Homo sapiens: one gene and its partners. The protein of the gene in region 4 interacts with the protein of the main gene of each other region in a biochemical or structural test. Each region holds a gene or a part of one and is shown on either strand. Other genes may lie near its edges.

What was found.
Region 1: of the proteins of PPP2CA (region 4) and CDC42BPB, one has a biochemical effect on the other in vitro, tested with the Homo sapiens proteins (one study listed by BioGRID).
Region 2: of the proteins of PPP2CA (region 4) and BCL2, one has a biochemical effect on the other in vitro, tested with the Homo sapiens proteins (2 studies listed by BioGRID, with this or other methods).
Region 3: the proteins of PPP2CA (region 4) and MAP4K3 form a complex in vitro, tested with the Homo sapiens proteins (one study listed by BioGRID).

Annotation. Positions count from the first base shown.
Region 1 is NC_000014.9:102,967,050-102,970,549, forward strand, and holds part of CDC42BPB (serine/threonine-protein kinase MRCK beta), read right to left. Parts: intron 3,213-3,500; coding exon 3,102-3,212; intron 1,668-3,101; coding exon 1,423-1,667; intron 1,310-1,422; coding exon 1,204-1,309; intron 122-1,203; coding exon 1-121. UniProt on the Homo sapiens protein: Serine/threonine-protein kinase which is an important downstream effector of CDC42 and plays a role in the regulation of cytoskeleton reorganization and cell migration. Regulates actin cytoskeletal reorganization via phosphorylation of PPP1R12C and MYL9/MLC2.
Region 2 is NC_000018.10:63,313,270-63,316,769, reverse strand, and holds part of BCL2 (apoptosis regulator Bcl-2), read left to right. Parts: intron 1-3,500. UniProt on the Homo sapiens protein: Suppresses apoptosis in a variety of cell systems including factor-dependent lymphohematopoietic and neural cells. Regulates cell death by controlling the mitochondrial membrane permeability. Appears to function in a feedback loop system with caspases.
Region 3 is NC_000002.12:39,322,286-39,325,785, reverse strand, and holds part of MAP4K3 (mitogen-activated protein kinase kinase kinase kinase 3), read left to right. Parts: coding exon 1-56; intron 57-157; coding exon 158-268; intron 269-3,500. UniProt on the Homo sapiens protein: Serine/threonine kinase that plays a role in the response to environmental stress. Appears to act upstream of the JUN N-terminal pathway.
Region 4 is NC_000005.10:134,202,074-134,205,729, forward strand, and holds part of PPP2CA (serine/threonine-protein phosphatase 2A catalytic subunit alpha isoform), read right to left. Parts: intron 1-3,656. UniProt on the Homo sapiens protein: Catalytic subunit of protein phosphatase 2A (PP2A), a serine/threonine phosphatase involved in the regulation of a wide variety of enzymes, signal transduction pathways, and cellular events.

The DNA of each region.
Region 1 (3,500 bases), on a different chromosome or scaffold from region 4:
GAATGATTTCCGCAATCTGAGCTTCCCAGTGGGCCACTGACTCCTTCTTGGCTGCCAGATCCTGCAGCTCATCCTCCAGCTGTCTATTTTGAGCTGTGAGTTTATCCACAAAGGAACAGAGCTGAAATGAAACAATTTCACCACAGAACTTGTTAATCGGGCATCCTTTAAGTATGCTGGATTTAACACTGGAAGTTCTTTTGAAGACTCTGAAAGTTTTCTTTAATCGTCATGAGATTTTTCCAAACTAAGTTCATGATATGGATTTTTTTCACTGTATCTAGCTTAAGTCACATTTCAATTCAAATCTAAACCTAAACTGATGGAGCTGGAGCTAGTGACTTCAGGCAATTGGCATCTTTTCGCTGAATACAAACATCCTATTTAAAAGACCAAACACATGACTCCATTCAAAAATTAAAACAGTCACGTGTAGTGAAACAGCAAGAACACGGTCTGAGAAACGTGTCCTTGCACACACAGCGTGAATGCACTCACGCAAGCCTAGACGGTGCGGCTGCCGCACACCAGGCCCTGTGGTACAGCCTGTCAATTCCAGGCCCCAAGCCTGCATACCATGTTGCTGTGCGGGACGCTGCCGGCGGCTGTAGCACAATGCTAAGTATCTGTGTATCTCAACACAGAAGAGGTAGAGTAAAGTACAGTATTATGATCGTACGGGACGCCTGTTGTACACACAGTCTATCATTGATGGAAGCATCGTTATATGGCACATTACTGCACTGTAAAAAGACACCAAACTTCGGCCGGCGCAGTGGCTCATGCCTGTAATCCCAGCACTTTGGGAGGCTGAGGTGGGTGGATCATGAGGTCAGGAGATTGAGACCATCCTGGCTAACACGGTGAAAACCCGTCTCTACTAAAAATACAAAAACTTAGCCAGGCGTGGTGGCAGACGCCTGTAGTCCCAGCCACTTGGGAGGCTGAGGTGGGAGAATGGCATGAACCTGGGAGGCAGAGGTTGCAGTGAGCCAAGATCGCGTCACTGCACTCCAGCCTGAGCGACAGAGCGAGACTCCATCTCAAAAAAAAAAAACCAAACTTCCAAGACTCAAGAATGACGACATTCTACTCCCCCATAAATATATATACCTACTATGTACCCACACAAATTAAAAATAATTTTTTTTTAAATTACAACTTCCACACAAAGTGCTAACTCAGGTACTTTGAATTAATTACCTTTTCATTTTCAGCAGTTAGCTTCTTGTTTTCATCAAACAGCATCGCTCTTTCTCGTTCGTATTTATCTTTTATTGTACCTACTGCCTCCTCCATCTCGTTATGCCTGCCAAGGTGAGCGAGAAACAGTTTTAAAAGCTCGTAACTTCACTGATATTCGTATCTATGGCGTGGGTATCAGCTTGCATCTTCTGAACTGAGAAGCTCATGAAAACCTACCGTTCTCGCTTTGACTTTTCTAACTTATCTTTTAACATCAAGATTTCTTTCTGCAGGGCCAGCTGGTGGCTTTCTGAATCATGCACCTCCTTCTTCACATTTTTCACTTCTAGCACATGGGAGGCCTCACGTCTGACCAATTCCTCTTCATAAAATAAGACTTTCTTCTCCAGCTCGGATTTGATTTTGGAAATCTCTTGCTGGTGCTCTAAGGTGGCACCCGCTCCCCGGCCTCCTTGCTTCACCTGAAGACAAAGGTTAACATAAATTGACAAACCTCTGTGTCCTCAAGGGTCACACTGTCCTTTCAACCCCTTTCATCCCAAGCAAGTGCAGACACCTTCCCAAGGACTGTGTGTGCCTGGTCTACACCAGATGACGTAGCTGACCTGGCTAACGTGATCCAGGTTCTAGGGGGTCACAGCAGGAGACGGCCTTGCAGGGGGATGTGCCCAGGTCTGCCTGGGACCCCCGAAGCTCTGCCCCACACCCTGTTCATTCATGCTTGCAGCATTCTTCTGAGGGCTGACTCTGTGCTGGGCCCCCTCCTTGTGACTGGGGTGACACTGAGGTCTCTGCTCTCTTGGGGCTGGCGGGAACTGACAGCAAACCAGTAAAGGGGCAGAGGGGCCGTGCACCCCAGCCAGGTTGTAGGGAGTGGAGGGCGTGCCAGGATGGCTGGGGCGGCTTCTGTAAGGTGCTGGCCTATTAAGTGAGGTGTCAGGCTAGGGGCAAAGAACAAGGGCACAGGCTGGAGTGAGGTGGGACGTGTTGGCAGTGTTTGCAGCATGCAGAGAGGCCAGTGTGTCTGGTGTGGCGGGGCAAGGAGGGGCAGGAGAGGCACTGCTGGGCTGGAGCAGGCAGGAGGGTAGCTGCTGGACAGCTGCGGAGCCACGGAGGCCCTGCCGCACAGGAATGTGATCCGGCTTTGGTCTGCCAAGCTCACTCTGCCTGCTGTGCAGAGAGGAGACTCAAGGGCTGAGAAAGGGGCAGGAGCCTCGGGCACCACATGCCGAGGTCCAGCCAAGCCCGCTGCCAGGGAGGAACAGCATCTCAGGCCCACGTCCCAGAGGAAGAGTTGCCAGATCACTGAGGCGAAGGGAGAGGGCAGACCCATCGCACGCGGCTCACACATGAGGAGATCCAGGCCACGCCATACTGCCAAGGAGATCCGCCTCCGGCCCCTTGCCCACTTGGCCACTGTGGCCTTCCCCACTCCCGCCCTCCGCGGCCTCCCTGCTACCCTCCAGCCCCACCAGTGGGCCCCGACTGATGGCCAGCCTGTCTCTTCCCCAGTCAGCAGCAGGCTACGGGCTTTAAGGAGCTTTTCCAAAACTCAACTGCACCGAATTTAGAATACCACGATGTGAAGAAGGCTATGAATTGATGGGGCTGGAGTAGGAAATGAGCCAATTAGATATTCGTTTCCTAGGACTTACTGTGAATTGCCTGAAACTTTTATATAACAAAGGAAAAACATGAACTTGGCCTTTAAAAATGAAAGCAGTCACGAAGGCAGGGGTCACACCCCCCACCTCTCCACATGTGGGTCTTGTCTGAACAGCCTCGGGTGACACTCGGCCCGGACCACACATTACACAAGGTGACTTCCATGTGGTGGCGTCAGCAAAGATAAGCATCCCTCTCAGTTAAGGGCAGAGACCCCCGCCCAGCACTACCTTGAGGGCCTCCAGCTCGCTTTCCATTTGCTTGCAGAAGTTCTCGCTGTGCTCACGAAGCTTGCGCTCCTTGGAGGCCTCAGCAACAGCATCATCAAGCTGAGCTTCCAGCTACAAAAGGAAGATCCAGTTTCTATTAACAAAAAGCGAGCCCTGCTTCACCAGTTACAGCAGCACCCACGGGACCTCCACAAGAACAAGACCTCGAAGGAGCTCTGCGCGTGTTCACCCTTCATCAAATCTTATCACAAATTAAAGTTTGAGAAATACACTTCTGGGTTCAACTGGGATGGTTGGTTACTAATAAAACAAGGTTCAATTCTAGCTTAAATTGACACTTAAATTTCAAGAAAGGATACATTTCTTGAAATTTAAATTTCACTGATTCGTGAAAACCAG
Region 2 (3,500 bases), on a different chromosome or scaffold from region 4:
CCACATGTTTTTATTACATTTTACAAAGTGTGCTCATACTAGGAGGCCAAATAGAGAAAAGGCCAAGAAAAGTAGATGATTGATGTGAACATCTGATCTTATTTGACCAAAGTTGACAAAATATTGATGCCACTGTTTGGTGTTTAAAAGTAAGATTAACTAAAATGCCCCAATTTAAATTTCTAAAATTTAAATCCTCTTCTTGAATTGTTTGTTTGTTGAGATCTCACATTATCAGATCTTTAGTAATTCTGGAAGAATTTGCTAAAGGGTGAAAAGAATATTTTTGTTAAATATTTGGTTAAGTAGGTGGTTTGATTTTTAATCACTATAACTAAAGGGGTTGGGACTTCCAGATTCCCAAAGGATCCTTTTAAACCAAAGTAAAACTGATTTAATAGTTTTACTATTTCACATTTTTGTGAAAAATTCACACTTACAAATTTTCTTTCTACTTGAAATAAATCCAAGGTGGTAACTGGTATCTGTCTATCAAATAAGTTAATAAAAATGTGGGAAACAGAGACACATGTTTATGACAGAAATTAAGATACAACCTTGATATTTGTTGCTGAATTTCAGTGTGTTACCCTCTCATGTAACTGAAGTTTCTTTTTAAGTAAAGGCTCACTTTTTTCTTTTTGTGAAACAGAGTTTTCATAGTAGACCTATCTTTGTGGTCAACAGGTATCTGAGGTTGATAAATGTAGAGGCTACATTTTATGATGCCAAACCACAATGACATACCATAGAACATGATAAAAATTTTTTGACAAAACTGCTTCTAGTAAAAATAAATCATGTAGAAGCACAGATGGTTGATGGTAAAATATGTAATAGCTTTCAGAACAATGCATAGATGGTGACTATATAGGAAAACAAAGGAATTTAGAGAAAAAATATATATATATACCAGGAAATGCACTCATAGGACACTTTGGAATAAAAGTGGTAGTGTTTGAGAATGATGAATGATTTGCCTATCATTTCAAATGTGCATTATTAATCTAAAAGTCATTTTAGGCATTTGGCATACAGACAGATTTTCTTCACATTTACACCAATTGGGGTTACATCTCTAATAATATGTTGTATTTTATAGTGTAAGGTAGTCTTAATGGTAAAGCTTCAGAAGAGAGCTAGCATATTTTCTTGGCATGTGACAATAATCTGCACTGTCCCCAGGGCTCCGTGGATTAGCCCATCTCCTGAATACTACACTGAATACTCCAGGCTTTAGACTGCAAGTCATTTCTTTTTCTTTGCTGCTGCTCGTAGAAAATTGGAACCTTGTGAGGCTGAGGAAATCTGTTTGACTTTTGTGTTCCATAACATGGATAAATCAGGTCCTTGGAATGATCAGCCTCTGATAGATTGTCCCAGAAGACTACAAATTAAATAAAGACTAAAGAAGTAATTGGCTGTAGAGTGGAGTGTGGATTTATTCCTAGGTCTGAATAAGGCATTGTGTGGCATCCAGAGAGAGGCAGGACAGAGGAAGCAGTGAGAGAGAAGCAATTCTAGAAAATGTGGATACCTTGCTGCTCAGTGTGGCTTATAGACAGTAGCACATGCATCCCCCGGAGCTTTGTAGAGATGCTAAAGCTCAGCTCCCACCCCAGAGCTACTGAGTCAGAATATGTGGTTTGTGTGCACGTTAAAGTTAGCGATGCTGGCTACCATCCTTGGTTCCTGGTGGCATCTTTTAGGAAGAGTTGCTACCTGGGATGGATTCTGCATTGTCCCCTTCCAGTGGCCTTAAAGATCTATAGTGTTACTTGGAATACCGAGTATTTCCCAGGTGTCCACTATTGTGATCTGACTTTAGGAAGACATAAATTGGATGAAGGAGAGATAGCAAGCAGGTAGATCAACTATAAGCCCAGTCTTCTCATGAATATTTTTCGTAGTAGTTATATAGTTTATATTGGCATCACTGGTCCCATTAAAAAGTAAGATAGCTTTTCTTCAATTAAAGGCAAGAGAATTAGCTCTTTTAATAGCTCTGTTAGTTATTATTTTATCCCCTCATAACACAGTTTAAATTCTGTAAATGACTTTAGTGACCTTGCAGCTTCTTTAAGACAAAGGGACTCTTGCAGGCAAGGGATTGAGTTTTGGGCAGGTGATGGAGAGTGACCCTCTAAACTGGGAACTGTGACGACATTCAGCTTCATGTCTTAGGAGAGAGTGAGATAGGAGCCACTAGAAGAATGAGATGATTCAGACAAGAGATTGTAGGAGATTGGCTTTATTCTGTTGACAAGATGGTAATCCGACTTATTTTTTGGTTTTTTGGTGTTGGTGGTTTAGGAAGACAGGAACTTCTCCACACCCGGTAGAGTTCAGCTGCCTTTTCATTAGTCAGCAAGCAGTTTTTCCTTTCTCAAGGCAGTCCACATCCAGCAAAACATTTGATTAACTGGAAAGCAATACCATTCTCATGCCAGTGTACAAATTACATGAAAGAGCATCATTTTTCTAGTGTCTGAGGATTGGCTGCTTATGGCCAATTTTGGCAGCAAGACGATAGGATTAAAAATAGCTTGAAGATGATCTAGTCTTAAATAATATATTTCATGATGAACTTTCCTTGGGAAAGTGCATCTTTCTGCCTACAAGAATCACATGACCCCTTTCAATAATTTATGTAGTAGAGAAAAACACACTATTTCTCATAGAGTTTTCAGTCATGTGCTGTGGTGTGATTGTTTCTGGACATTCATAAAATTTTATAGTTAACTGAATTCTCTTTTCTGTTTTGTTGCTATTTAACGTCCATTGAAAACATGGCTTTCTTTTGCGCATTCTGTTACTTTCAGCTGTACTTTCTAATAAGAATGGATTGCCCTTTTTAGCAATCTTTGATTGAACTGGTACATTTCAGATTACTTAAATGTCATCAGGCCACACAGCATACCAGGTAACAGAAAGCCATAAATTAAAAATAAAAAAAAGGCAAGCAAAATTCTTGTTGTTTTTTCTTATCTCTGTTCCCAGTCCTATTGCGCTATTTGGAGGGATGATACGCCCACTCATGAGCGAGTGTGTGGGTGCTGCATGTTAACAGTGGTTCTTCCCACCCAACATACCTCCGCACCCTTTTCTAAGGTCACTCATTGTGTCTTAGCAGTAGTTTAGCAAAGCAGTATCTCAGCAGAAGTGCATTTGTGCTAGAAAACAACACTGTCTTTGTAGTGTACAAGTAGAACGTTTTCTTTTTCCCCCAGAGATATATTGTATTTGAGATTCAAAGGTTCTGTTCAACCTTTTTAAGGTAATCTAATATCACCTTATTCAGGTATAACAGTAACTTGTCAATCTGGTCATCCTTTCTGTCAACCACATGTAGGAGACCACTCAGTGAATTTACTCCACTGTGAATTTTCTCTTTCATCCCTCTTGGTTTGGCTTAATCAACCTTAATGTTTGATGTCTAAGCAGGATTAATGATGAAAATCATCCAAGGACTGACAGTTATTCCACAGATGTGATTGCCA
Region 3 (3,500 bases), on a different chromosome or scaffold from region 4:
AAATGGCACTTACCAAAAATCCGAAAAAAAGACCTACTGCTGAAAAATTATTACAGGTATTATTTTTGCCCTGAAATATATATATATATTTCAAAAGATAAAATGTTATTCAATCAGATTTATAGTAAGTGTTCTGCATTGTATTTAATTTTTATAGCATCCTTTTGTAACACAACATTTGACACGGTCTTTGGCAATCGAGCTGTTGGATAAAGTAAATAATCCAGATCATTCCACTTACCATGATTTCGATGATGATGATCCTGAGGTAGGAATTGCTTTTACCAGCGGGCATATATAACATGTATATGTGTATGTATATATGTGTGTCTGTATGTACGTCTCAAAATCCATTTTTTTAATTTTGGGGCCTAGTTTAAATAAAAAAGCTCTTGAGGGAACAATTAATTCTTTGTCTTTGCCTTTCATGGAAAGTCAAATGCTAGGTTTTTCTTACTGACTACTTATAGGTGACTATAGTGTGAAAATGGCAAAGGCATATCATTTAATCCACTTGTTGAAATCACTGTAGTTATTTCAAAATAGCCATTTTTGGTGAAGTTGCCAAATAATCATTCACTGTAAAAGGGAAAGCAAATGGGAAGTGCCTAAACAAGACATTTGAATATTCAAAATTTCCCCTCAGTTTGCTTCTCAAAAAGAATCCTCAGTTTGGCCTGGTGGCTCATGTCTGTAATCCCATCACTTTGGGAGGCTGAAGCAAGAGGATTACTTGAGGCCAGGAGTTTGAAACCTGCCTGGTCAACATAGCAAGACCCCGTTTCTATCTTTAAAAAAAAATTCTTATATAATACTTCATAAATTATTAGAGGTTAGTAGGAAGTATAGGCTTGACTTTGCCAGTGACTAAAACTCAGCTATTCACTATGGAAATGTTTTAAAATGAGCCAGTATAGTTGTTAATAAAATAATTCTAATATGACAGAAGCATTGATATTAATGGAAGCTTCACTTCTGTTTGCATATGTAACATTCCTAGCACTGCTAATAGTTGTGGCAACCAAGATAAATTCAGTATATGTGACATGGCAGAATTCTGTTATTGGGTCTGTAACAGAAGTGGATAGGCTTTAACTCTACTGGCTTTATGGGAGGCCCTTAAAAATATTGTAAATTTCATTAATGACTGAAGGTGAAGTGTTTAGAAAGACGGCCACAGATTGTCTTAAGTCAGAGAGAACCTTTCTATCAATTCAGCATTGTCCCAGCTTGCCATCTTATGATAGATAAGCTATTTGTCCTTTTGTTTAAGGGTCTGGAAAAGAGTTTGGAGCTTAAAAATGTAAGGAATGTAAAGTATAATTAATCTTATAATTATACTCTGAAGAAGTTTTTTTTGTTTTGTTTTTGTTTTTTTTTGAGATGAGTCTTACTCTATTACCCAGGCTGGAGTGCAATGGCATGCTCTCAGCTCACTGCAGCCTCTGCCTCCTGGGTTCAAACGATTCTCCTGCCTCAGCCTCCTGAGTAGCTGGGATTACAGGAGCCCACCACCATGCCCAGCTAATTTTTGTATTTTTAGTAGAGATGGGGTTTTACCACATTGGCCAGGTTGGTCTCGAACTCCTGACCTTGTGATCTGCCTGCCTCGGCCTCCCAAATGCTGGGATTACAGGCATGAGCCACCGCACCTGGCCTGAAGAAGTTTTTTGGTGTTGATTTGCTTAATTTTATTTTTAAGAAAGTTAAGTTTTACAAACTCTTCTAGTCTTATTTAGTATACAGGCAGTCCTTGATGTGCATGGTAGTATGGGACTGTAAAAATGACTGCATAAGCTAAAATTCTGCAAAGTAATCTTAATAATCAGGAAAAATTATAATTGTTTCATGACTTTTAAAATTTTTTGTTAAAGCATAAACTCTGTTACTGTCAGTTGTAATTGTAGAAATGTGAAAAAATAGTAAAACTATTATTTACAGTGTATTATAAATATTAGAATCATCGAGAGTTAATGTGTTTCATTTCTTTGTTAATGAACTTTTCATGCACTTTTTTTACTTATCTAGTAGTCTGCTTATTGAGTAGTTTGCCTTTTCATCATGTGTCTGTGACACAGAGCAAGTATCTTTTCTATGCCTTGGCAAATTGTCATATTGCTTTCTAATTTTCTTTCTAATCATGATCATGATGTGCATCTGTTATTTACGTAGTAATTTGTGAACTGAAAGGCTACCAATAAAGTTTATACTTTATGCAATTTCAATTAATATACAGTGGTAACTGTTATTTGAACCATGATGTAGGGAACTAGTGTTATTTAACTAAATTATGGTAACTGAAATTGGTGCATAACAAAGCTGTAAAACAAGGACTGCCTATATCCTTTTCAGTGCACTAAATGCTACATGATTGTTTCTTACCTCACCCTATGTACTTGTCATGTCTTTTTAAAAATGTACTCAAAGAACAGAAATAATAAACCAAATAGAGAAGCAATCTGTGGAATGAAGATTCTTCTAAAACTTTCTCATATAGCAGGGAAAGAAACTCATCTTTCTTATCCAGACATTGTTTTGGTATTATAATTATAAATTGTTACAAATCTCTATGGTAAGTAGGTAAAATAAAGGAATTTAATTATTCCAGGGGTAGGATGAGGGGAAGCTGTTACATTCCCTCTCACAGTAGCTTAGAATAATGTTTTTCTTAAGAGAAATTCATAACTTTTTTATTTGCAAATGATTTGTAATTGTAATTGCTAAGTGCAGTGTTGTCACTCAAAATACGAATGTATCTAAGAATTTCAGCACTTACTGTGATACTAGAACTATTGTATGCATACTCTTAAAAATAAGGGTGGGCTCAGTGGCTTATGCCTGTAATCCCAGCACTCTGGAAGACCGAGGCAGGTGGATCACCTGAGGTCAGGAGTTTGGGACCAGCTTGGCTAACATGGTGAAACCCCGTCTCTACTAAAAATACAAAAATTAGCCGGGCATGGTGGCTCATGCGTGTAATCCCAGCTATTCAGGGGGCTGTGGCAAGAGAATTGCTTGAACCTGGGAGGCAGAGGTTATAGTGAGCCAAGATCATGCGACTGCACTCCAGCCTGGGCAACAGAGCGAGACTCCATCTCAAAAAAAAAAAACAAAAAATAGAAAAAGAAAAATATATATATATGTGTATTTATCTATATATACATATATACACACACACACACACACACACACATATACCACATCTAAGTCTAGTTTAAGTTTTTTATAGGTTATGCACTGTGGAAGAAAGTTTGACTTTTTAATGTTGAGTTCCCCTGTAGTTTCTATTTTAGAAGTAATTACACACTGGTGTAATTCTAATTCTGATTTTTATTCAGTTTTCGTCTCCTATATGTAAGCCCACTTACTATGTACAGCATTATAAGATTTAACAATTTTATTAATCTGTTATGCTAATAAATTAATAATTTATTGTGCTGTTTAAGCCGGGAAGGTAAAACTGTTCTCAGAAATAATCATGAGTTTCATCCATGTTCATT
Region 4 (3,656 bases):
AAAATTCAAGAAACTTTCTATAGAAAAAAATGCAGTTACAATTTTGTTGAAAAAACAGCACACATCCTCATATCATAGTGAACCAAAACCACAGCTCTACAGAATTTTTAAATGCCCATGGGGTGTTTGCCCACCTCATCTCAACTAAAATCAAACTCCCTCTACCACCAACTTTATACCAAACATAAATCAATGGGCTATTAAAACCCCATAAATTACTTTACGGTTCAGTAATTTTTCACAAATTTATAGTTATGCAACAATCACCACAATCCAGTTTTAGAACCTTTCCATTATCCCAAAAAGATCCCTCCTGCAGTCACTCTCCACTCCCACTCCAGCTCCTGGCAACCACTGATTTACTGTCTTGAGTTTGTCTTTTCTAGAAATGTCATATAAATGGAATACAAAATGTAGTCTTTTGGCTAAATATCACTTAGAATATTTTTGAGGCTCACCCATGTTCTGGCATAGATCAGTGGTTTGTTCCTTTTCATAGTTGCACAGTCCTTCACTGTATGGCTATACCATTTTTTGTTTCTCTATTCACAGTTAAGATGAACTGGCAATTATGTTACTGAGGTTTTTGGCTACTATGAATAATGTTGCTATAATCATATACATGGAAGTTTTTCTGTGGACATATGCTTTCATTTCTTTTAGGAAGATTCCTAAGAATATAATTGTTGGATCACCTGGTAACGTTTAACTTTTTGAGAAACAGTCAAACTGTTTTTCAAAGTAGCTAGACCATGTTATATTCCCACCAGCAATGCATGAAGAGTTTAATCTCCGGTATTAACCAACACTTGGTATTATCAACCTTACTGATTACAGCCATTCTAATAGATGTGAAGTAGTAACTCAGTTACTTTAATTTGCATTTCCCTGATTACAATTGATATCAAGCATCTTTTCATGTGCTCACTGACCACTCATGTATCATCTTCTTGGGTAAAATATCTATTCAAATATTTTGCCCATTTTACAATTATCTGTCTTGTTATTGAGCTGTAAAAGTTTTTTTTTTTTAAATATCTGAATACAAGTACTTTTTTTCTGGTGTCATCTTTTGAAAAAACATAATCTTAATTTTGATAAAGTCCGATTTTTCAATTTTTTATGGACTGTGCTTTTGTTATATCTAAGAATCTTTAACTAACCTGACAAAGATTTTCTGATTTATTCTAGAAGTTTTGTAGCTTTAGCTCTTACATTTAGTTCTATGATACATTCTGATCCATTTGCTTCAGCACCATTTACTGAAAGAAACATCCTTTCCCCCGGTATTCTTTTGCTAAGGCTGCCACAACAAAGCATCAGAGAATAGGTGGCTTAAACAACAGAAATTTACTTCCTCACTGTTCCAGAGGCAGAAGTCCAAGATCAAGGTGTCAGCACAGTTGGTTTCTTCTGATGGCCTCTCTCCTTGATTTATGGATGCTCATCTTCTCCATCTGTCTTATCTTCTCCCCATCTGTGTCCTAATCTCTAATAAGGATACCACTTACACTGGATTAGGGTCCAACCATGTGACCCCACTTTACCTTAATTACCTGTCCAAATACAGTCACATTCTGAGGTGCTGTGGGTTAGGACTTAGACAAATGAATTTTGGGGGCTACAATTCAGCCCATTAACCTCCATGAGTAAGTTTTTTTCCCCCCAGATAGGATCTCACTCTGTCGCCCAGGCTCAAATGCAGTGGAGTAGCTCACCGCAGCCTGAAATTCCTAGGCTCAAGCAATCCTCCCACCTCAGCCTCCAGAGTGGCTAGGACTACAGCACATGTCACCATGTCTGGCTAAAATTGTTTTCTGAAGAGATGGGGTCTCACTAGGTTGCCCAGGCTGCTTGCATACTCTTAAAGGTAGCACATTCATTCCTCTGAGCACTGGGATTCATCCTGGGTTTTTAGCACAGGTTAGCTCTTTTCATAGTATTTGGAGTCACCGCAGAAACCTTCCACCATCTAGTCCAACTCCTTCATTTTACAGATGCAGAAAATAACGATCTCCAAAAATATTTCGTAGGACTTTACACAATTCAGATATTAATCAAGAAAATTCAGCTCACGCTAAAACCACATCTCACTGCTTCTCTAATATTAGGAAAGTCTGTGACAGCCATTTATCATTTTGAATATTCTTTAATAATAAAAATCAGTCTGTTGCCTAGGGGGGAAAAAATCTCCCCAAGATTTTTGGGTAAAGGTAAAGTCAAACAATTTATTTAAAGGGAAAGGCGGAAGCCTGCCACCCTAACAGCTCTTTACCATCTTTTGCTTCATGTTCAGATCATCATCAGTACACTTTGCAAAGCTACAATTGGCATGTAATGCATGTAATTTTGGAACTTGCTTTTTTCGGTTATCATTTCTACCATTCTAGATTTTTGTTTTTTAAAGACACAGGGGTCTTGCTCTGTCACACGGCTGGAGTGCAGTGGTGCATCATGGCTCACTGTAGCCTTGACCTCCCAGGTTCAAGTGATCCTCCCACCTCAGCTTCCTGAGTAGCTGAGACTACAAGCATGCACCACTGCACCTGGCTATTTTTTTTAACTTTTTGTAGAGATGGGGTTTATGTTGACTACGCTGTTCTTAAACTCCTGGACTCAAGTGATCCTTCCCGCCTTCCCCAGCCTCCCAAAGTGTTGAGATAACAGGCGTGAACCACTGCACCCAGCCTAGTCTAGATTATTACTGTCATGGTTAATGGCTGGAAACTATTCAACTGAGCTAAACCATATGTACATACATAATGTATGTAATGTACATAATATTCTCTGTTAAATATTTACAGCAAATGTTTTCTTGAATTTCTCAGAAAAATTCTTTTTTTTCTTGAACTTCTTCCTCGATATTTTTTTTTTTTTTTGAGACAGGGTCTCATTGTTCCCCAAGTTAGAGTGTAGGGTGGCAAGATCAAGTCTCATTGCAGCCACGACCTCCTGGGCTCAGGCAACTCTGCCCACCTCAGCCTGAGTAGCTGGGACTACAGGCCTGTGCCACCACACTCGGTTAATTATTATTATTTTTTTGTAGACAAGGTCTCACTATGTTGCCCAGGCTGGTCACAAACTCTTGGACTCAAGCAATATGCTCACTTTGTCCTGTCCTCCCAAAGTGCTGGGATTATAGCCACGAGCCACCGTGACCAGCTGATTTAAAACATTTTGACATTTGGTATGTTTATATATTTATAATACTTCAAAAGTATCTAAAAACACAAATCTAATTATATTACCTCTCCATACCCCAATTTACTGAACTAAAATATCTATTTGACCAGCCCTCTAACATTTTTCTTTTCCTTTTTTTTTTTTTGAGACAGTCTCGCTCTGTTGTCCAGGCTGGCGTGTAGTGGCGCAATCTCAGCTCACTGCAACCTCCGCCTCCCAGGTTCAAGCAATTCTCCTGCCTCAGGCTCCAGAGTAGCTGGGATTACAGGCACCCGCCACCACCCCCGGCTAGTTTTTTGTACTTTTAGTAGAGATGGGGCTTCACCATGTTCTCCAGGCTGGTCTCGAACTCCTGACCTCAGGTGATCTGCCTACCTCAGCGTCCCAAAGTGCTGGGATTACAGGCATAAGCCATCACGCCCAGCCTATTTTTTCAAACAATCTGACTGAGGCATTCATTCTCCTCCTTTTGT